2 linked regions of the Homo sapiens genome follow. The protein of the gene in region 2 purifies or fractionates together with the protein of the main gene of each other region. This does not show direct contact. Each region holds a gene or a part of one and is shown on either strand. Other genes may lie near its edges.

Region 1 (3,500 bases), on a different chromosome or scaffold from region 2:
CAATTCGGCCATGTTTTACTGTTGCACATAAATAATAACAAGGCAAAGAACAGCAACTAGTCCAAGGGCTTGCAGGCCAAGGAACCACAGCATAACCCAAAAGAAAATGACTATTACTGGTTCCACTATTCGTTCTCCAAAATACATCCTTGTGAAGCCCATGTTGATAAGGTTTTTGTTCAGTTCACCAAAAAGTGTTCCCATTTTCTTGTAGTCATCTCCAACCGGCTCACCAGTGTGGTTCTGTGAGTCTTCAACATCCTTTAAAAAAAAAAAAAAAGACAAAACATGAACATAACATGAGAAATATGTAAACGTCTTTAAGAACCTTAGTTCTTCATCTTCCAAAGTGCTGGGCATACTTCTGATAATTATTCTACAAGTACCTGTTAACACAATGGGAATGTTCTTTTTGATCCTGGAATTGCACAAAAATGACTGCTTAAGTGAAGAATCATGTTTGTATTTCTCTTGTGAGTGACCATGATTTCAGAACACCCTTTTCTGCCACCCTCCTGTTTTATGAGGCAAGGCCTGACTGCTCTGTCCTGGTAAGATTCTTTTTAGACGGTTCCTTTGACACTAAGACGTTAAGAAACCGAGCCTCAGATGACCAAAGCATGTTTGCTGTTATTATTGAGCAATCCTCAGCCACTACTGCTGTGATCTTTGTCTTAGGCTCAGCTAAGCAGACTTCAGCGCAGGCCCTTGCATAGTTTCCTGTTCATTATATAGATGCCCTAAATGCCTCTTATTAATTTCATCAGGAGAAACAAATAGTTTTAATACAAATTTTTTTTTTTTACAATAAGGCCAAATGTCTACCCAGTAGTTAGTATCCCAGAAAATGTCTACATGCACCCAATTATACATACCTAAAGTATTATTTCTATTATCTTCCACTTGTATTATAATTAAGGCCATGACAGTAAGCTACTGTCTCTTGGCTTCAAACCCACTCTTTGGAATTCTGCAAGCATTTCTGTCTCCCTGTTAGGCTCTGCCAATAGAGGGACCAGCGTGACACTTCACAGGTAGAGAAGGAAGAAGGAATTTGCTGTTTCCTTCGGATGGGTTTCTTAATCCTGTTAAGTCTCACTCTAGCAACAATTCTTCACTCCGACAGCAATAGTGCCTGCTAGTAGTAGCAGCTGATTGCAATTTGGGGGTTTTCCAACACTTGTAGAACCAATCTCAATGTGCCTTCTTGAGATGCCAGCTCCAATTACTGGGTGCTTCTTCCTCAGATACCTGGTTCCCAGGTCTATAGGCTCCCTCCTCTGAACTCAGAGAAATCAGTACCAGGCAAGCAGTGACCTGTTCTCAAAAGTCTGAATTTCAGTTCCATGGGGGCCTTTTTGAAGCTTCTCAGTTTCAGTAAGTCCATCCATCTCTTTTTCTTTCTGCCCAGTCCTATGAGTGGTTGTCTTGGTGATATTTTAGTGCAGTGGTTTTTAAACTTTAGCATGCGTTAGAATCCGCTGGAGGGCTTGTTAAAGCACAGCTTGCTGGGCCTACTACTAGAGTTTCTGATTCAGTAAGTCAGGGGTGAAGTTGGAGTCTGAGAATTTGCATTTCTAGGAAGTTTCTAGGTGATGCTTATGATGCTGATCTGGTGACCATGCTTTTCCAATACCCAGTTAACAATTACTTATATTAAATTATCTTTGTTAAAATAATTGGTATAGTTTCTCTCCCCCTCCCCACCGCCCCAGACCCTAGTAGAATCACAAAAGAAAAACTGTCATGTAGGTGAGATAATTATAATTTATTTAAATATATTTTATTTAGGAGGCATGATTCAAATAATTATTGAATTATTTGCTCATAGTATGTACATGATGGAGAATTTATTATACGTTTAAAAAGCCTTTAGATATAGGGCTTCACATAATAAGTATTAAATACCATTAAGTATGCCGTATAGGCCAAAGGAAAGCAAAATTAATTATCTTATAAGGGAGTGTCACAAAATCATCTGCCACAAACAGCCAATGAATTTGAGGAAATTTTAAGACATTCTTCAAACATCTGAATCAAACTTACATTCTTTTAGTAGAAACCAAAGCTTGATCATTTCAGTCATCGATCAGTAAATAATTAAAAATATTTTTTTCATTAAAGAAATGGCTATATGAAGCCTTATTTTCTATTGTACACATAGAGTTTAAAATAAATCTTTAAGGGAAGAGTGAAAAAAAATCTAACTTTTGTTTAAAATAGAAAATCAGACAAAATGATTTTCAGTATGACTTTAAGAAATGGGCTTTTCCCATATACTAGTAATTTATGTACAGTAATGAGTACCAAGGGGGACTGATGAGGTAGTAGAAAAATGAGACTCACTGGGGCATCTTTGTTGAGTCTACATCATGTGTTCAAGCCAGATTTACTTTTGAGCTATACTTTTATATAATTTTTTTTTTTGAGACAGTTTCTTTCTTGTTGCCCAGGCTGGAGTGCAATGGCACAATCTCGGCTCACTGCAAACTCCACCTCACACTTCAAGCAATTCTCCTGCCTTAGCCTCCCAAGTAGCTGGGACTACAGGCATGCACCACCATGCCTGGCTAATCTTTTGTATTTACTAGAGACAGGGTTTCACCATGTTGGTCAGACTGGTCTTGAACTCCTGGCCTCAGGTGATCCACCTGCCTTGGCCTCCCAAAGTGCTGGAATTACCAGCGTGAGCCACTGTGCCCGGCCTATTTTATATAATTTTTAAAATTACTTTTGGATTTTCACTTCTATCAGAAAAAGAGTGAGAAGAACAAAATGTTGTAGAGTTATCTAGGGAGTTCACATCCAGGCTGCAACACTTTAACTGAGTGACATGACCTTAGCCAAATTACTTCACTTTTCCTGAACTTCAGTTTTCTAATCCATAAAATGATTTATGTGATCCTTTTTTGATACTGATAGTTTTCTCTTAAGTTATAATTTGTGGATCTTTTCTTTTTTTAAAAAATTGATTTCTAAATTATTTTTTCCTTCACTGATATATTATGACTGGGTCAATTTTATGTTTCTTGTACTTTGATATGATCCATAACAATATACTACATTTTAAAAAAACCCTTATTCTTGCCTAATATTAAAGCTTTCTTTTCTTTAGGGTAGAACTTGAAGAGTCCTCGATTTAGTATGTAATTCTGCTGATCCCTCATCCCTCTCTATTTCTCCAGTGTTCAGCATGTTGATACTGTTTCTGGCCTTTTTTTCTTCATTTTTTATTAAAGTTCTTAAAAAAATTTTTTTTTTTACTCTTCCCAATTTCTTGTAATCTATGCACTCATTGTACTTTGGGGTTTTTTTTGTTGTTACTGAAGCTTTTTAAGACTTTTTTTTTCAGTATTTTTGTGGTTTTAGTACGAAGAAAGTACCCTAATCTGGATGTGGTAGGTACTGTCTGAAGGTTTAAATTCTTTGTAAAATAAATTAAATCTACAAATGCTTGTGGGTTTTTCAGGGGAAGAAGGAGGTGTTGCAACACTTAAATC
Region 2 (4,224 bases):
ACAATTCACATGGCTACAGATTACCTACTGTGATGTATTAAACCTATCCCAAATCCACTTATCTCAATCTTTTCTTAATGAAAGGGAACTAAAAGCCAGAGACTCAACAGACTATTCAGTTCCAACTTATGACCCTACATATGACGTTTAATTAACAGAGGATGCAGGAACCCTTACAGTAGAGAGTTCTGATAGACATCATCTTCACCAAATGATCAAACTTGGTAGTAAAGAGAGGATGCAGATACCCTTACAGTAGAGTTTTCATAGACACCATCTTCACCAAATGATCAAACTTAGTATTATCAATGAAGATACAAATTGACATTCAATGTCTCTTTTTTTGTTGAGACAAAGCCTCGCTCTGTCACCCAGGCTAAAGTGCAGTGGCGCAATCTTGGCTCACTGCAACCTCTGCCTCCTGGGTTCAAGAGATTCTCGTGCCTCAGCCTCCCCAGTAGCTGGGATTACAGGCACACACCACTACGCCTGACTTTTTAGTAGAGACAAGGTTTTGCCATGTTGGCCAGGCTGGTCTTGAACTCCTGACTTCAGGTGATACGCCTGCCTCAGCCTCCCAAAGTGCTGGGATTACAGGTGTGAGCCACTGAGCCAGGCTGACATTCAGTGTCTCTTGATGTGATGTACTGGTGAGTGGACGTCACCTAGGTAGGTAGCGTTCTGACCAAAAATGTTTAATCTAAATCTAATCATGAAGACCATCTAATGAACCTAGATTGTAAAACAGTCTATACAACAATTCACATGGACTCTTCCAAAATGTCCATCTTAAAAAATTCAAACAAGGAAGTAACTGTTTTAGCTAAATGAAACTAAAGAGACGGACAACTTAATGCAATGTGTGAACCTTAGATCATGGAATATATATATTTTTTTAAGGAAAAAAATCTATGTGGACAATTGGGGAAATGTAAACAAGGCCCACACATTAGGTAACATTATTCTATGATGTTCAGTTTCTTGGATGTGATATGGTTTCATGGATAGAAAATGGTTTTTAGAAGATACATGTTAAGATTATCAGGCATCAAGCAAGTGTTATGACTTCTGCAACTTCCTATTGAATGACTCGAGTTGAAATGGGACATGTGACCTACATCTAAGTGTGATACGTATGTAATACATGTGGTTATATATATAGAGAGAGAGAAAGAGAGCAGAGAGAGAGAAAGAGAAACAGAAAGCCAAAGAATCAAAATATTACTGAGTCTAAGTAAAGGGTACATGGGTATTTGTTATACTGTTCTCTCAACTGTTTGGCAGGCTTGACATTTTTCAGGAAAGGGGAAAATTAAGGAAACAAAGATTAATCTGGTCCCAGTAGTGCCTCCAGATTGCACGAACATTTCATGTATCACACAGGGTCACCAGAATACCATCAATTTTTTGATATCACTGTCAAAAGTGATCCTAGCACCTTCTGAAATAACGTGAGCTGCCAGATTCTCATTTCAGGAATGACCACAAGCGAACATCTGCATCTGACCCCAACCTGCCTGATGACCTTACCCGCTACTTCACAATCCCGTCCGGGAAAATCCCTGGGCACATAACACTGCAAGTCCCAGGTGTCCGCTGAACGGCGCCTGGCAGTCGCTGCCCAGGGGATGAGAAATCACAGGTGCCTTGTTTGGAACTAGAGTCTGGAATCTCGTCCTCCTTCCCTCTGCTCTGGTCCCTCATTGTTTATGAAGACCTCAGTCCCCTCTGCTGGGAGCCCCACCTCCCCTTCCAGGGCCACGGGCTCTAGTCTTCTTGCCTTTCAAGGACCACACAAATAACTGTGCCTCCCCTCAAAGCTTTTCTCCTCCTTCCCAAGTGAAGTCCTCTCTCCTCCCTCCAGCTTTCAGGGCACGGAGCGCTCTTCCTGGCATTAGAATTCTGAGCAACCCTCCTAGCAGGCCCAGCTCAAGCCGCAGCGGGGAGGAAGAGTTCAAAGGAAGCTGTGCCAAAGATCTCGAAGGCTTAGTGGGAGACCCAGCAACAGGTGGCACCAGGTCTGGGAAAGATTCCTAGAAAGCGGAGCGGGTCTCGGAGGGGGAGGATTTAGCCCCAGGCGCCCGCGATCAGCGAACGAGCGCCTGCGCGGAGGGGCCGGGCTGCAGCCCCGGGGCAAGGGGAGCGCGAGCTCTGACTCCTCAGCGCGGCCGGGCCGCTCCGAGACCCCTCGAAGGAGGCCGGGCGCCGTGGGGCAACCCAGGCAGGGCGGGGACCACAGCCTCCCGGGCTCGTGGGGTGCAGCTCTGAACCTGAGGCGCTCGGAAGCTCAAGGCCAAGACCCGCTCGGGTGGCGGCCGAGCGCCCTCCAGCCCCGGGCCCACCTGCGGCCGCTCTCTGCATCTCACGCCCAGCGGGACTCCGGGGCTCCGCCTCAGGGACCGCCGAAGAAGTGATGGGGAAAGGGGCTCCGGGCGAGCAGCACGGCCCCCCTCCCGGAGGACAGCGCCCACGCCGCCAGCAGGCTGCGCACCCGGGACCCCGCCCAGACTCGGGGCGCCCACAGCACGGCAGCGGCGACGGCGGGGCGCGCAGTGCGCAGGCGCGGGGCGGGCCGTACCTGGGAAGGAGCAGAGGGAAGTAGAGTTGGGGCACAGGGTCCCGTTGCCCACCCGCGGCACAACCTTCAGGCTCAGGATCTGCTGCAGGAGCCCGGCCGACCCGCCGCTGCCGCCGCTCCCCTCGCGCTCCATCCCGTCGCCATTCACCACAGAGAAATGAGGGACGAGCGCCCGAAGTGCGGTAGCGGCCGGCGCCGACTCACCCTCGCCGCCTCAGCGTCACCTCCAGCCGGGGTCCTCTTCCCCCAATCCCAACGGCGCTGCCAAGTGACCGTTGCCTCCTCCAATCACAAGGCGCCGCAGCGCTCGGGCGCAGGGCCAGGGTTGTTCCCGCCCCCAACGTTGCGCAGGGCTCGCAGAGACACAGCCCCACGGACGCGCCCCCTCCTGGACGGCGCGCTCTGGGACCGCGCGCTCTGCTCTGCCCTTCTCTGCAGCGCCCCCTGTGAGAAAGTAGGGAATTGCATGCGCCCCAACAGAGCCGCGCTATGGAGTTACCAGGGATCTGGAAAAATACAGTGATGGAACGGATATGTAAAGTTCTAGTTATGACTGGACTCCAGCATTTATGAAACCTTCATGAACAGAACAAGAACGTTCTCTATTTAAAGCTGATAGTAGAAAGAGCCCATGCAAAGTCTGGTGTGGGACCAGAATGGGAGGGAGGCTATGTAGCCTCTATAGAGCTCGACTTAGTTTTAAATAAAATAAAATGTACAGAGATTCGGTTCAGAGCAATAAAATTAGATCACACTTTTTTCTTTTTTTTGAGACGGAGTCTCCCTCTGTGACCCAGGCTGGAGTGCGGCCGCGCGATCTCTGCTCACTGCAAGCTCTGCCTCCCGGGTTCACACCATTCTCCTGCCTCAGCCTCCCGAGTAGCTGGGACTACAGGCGCCCGCCACCACGCCCGGCTAATTTTTTGTATTTTTAGTAGAGGCGGGATTTCATCGTGTTAGCCAGGATGGTCTCGATTTCCTGTCCTCGTGGATCACACATTTTTGTCTCACCTCCCTTCAGAAAGCCTGTTAAAATGAAGGCAGAGAAATCGTAAAAAGGAATAAGCTAATGTTCAGTTTGTTTGCACTGCTGTAACAAAGTACCTGAGAGTGGGCAATTTATTAAGAACAGAAATTTATTTTCTCACAGTTCTGGAAGCTGGGAGGTCCAAGATCAAGGTCGCAGCAGGTTCCATGTCTAAGGACGGCCCGTTCCTCACTGATAGCACCGCCCGGGCGTCCTCACACGGTAACAAAGGGAGCCCACTCTCCAAATCCCTTTTATAAGGGTCCTAATCCCATAACGGGGGCTCCACTCTTCTGACTTAATCGTCTCCTAAAGGCCCCTCCTCTCAGTACTATCGCATTCCCACGAAGTTTCAGGACATGAATTTGGGGGAACACGTTCAGACCATAGCAGCCATTAACAATAGTGTTCTGGAAGGGAAGTTACCAAGGATAAGTAATGTCCACAAGGTTCCAGGTGATGAAGAGGCTTGTGACGAATAATAATGTTTTTGTTTGGTTGGTTGGTTTGTTTTGAGACAGAGTCTCACTTTGTTGCCCAGGCTGGAGTGCAGTGGCGAAATCTCAGCTCACCGCAACCTCCGCCTCCCTGGTTCAAGCGATTCTCCTGCCTCAGCCTC

What was found. Proteins that work in one complex are often made in the same cells at the same time.
Region 1: the proteins of TMEM170A (region 2) and FAM241A purify together in Homo sapiens (affinity purification with mass spectrometry; one large-scale study listed by BioGRID and IntAct). This does not show direct contact.

The regions. Positions count from the first base shown.
Region 1 is NC_000004.12:112,183,454-112,186,953, reverse strand, and holds part of FAM241A (uncharacterized protein FAM241A), read right to left. Parts: intron 262-3,500; coding exon 16-261; 3' UTR 1-15.
Region 2 is NC_000016.10:75,461,890-75,466,113, forward strand, and holds the start of TMEM170A (transmembrane protein 170A), read right to left. Parts: upstream 2,801-4,224; 5' UTR 2,712-2,800; coding exon 2,579-2,711; intron 2,555-2,578; exon of another isoform or gene 2,362-2,554; coding exon of another isoform or gene 2,343-2,361; intron 1,618-2,342; coding exon of another isoform or gene 1,531-1,617; intron 1-1,530. UniProt on the Homo sapiens protein: Acts as a regulator of endoplasmic reticulum (ER) and nuclear envelope (NE) morphogenesis. Affects the ratio between tubular ER and ER sheets by promoting sheet formation at the expense of tubules.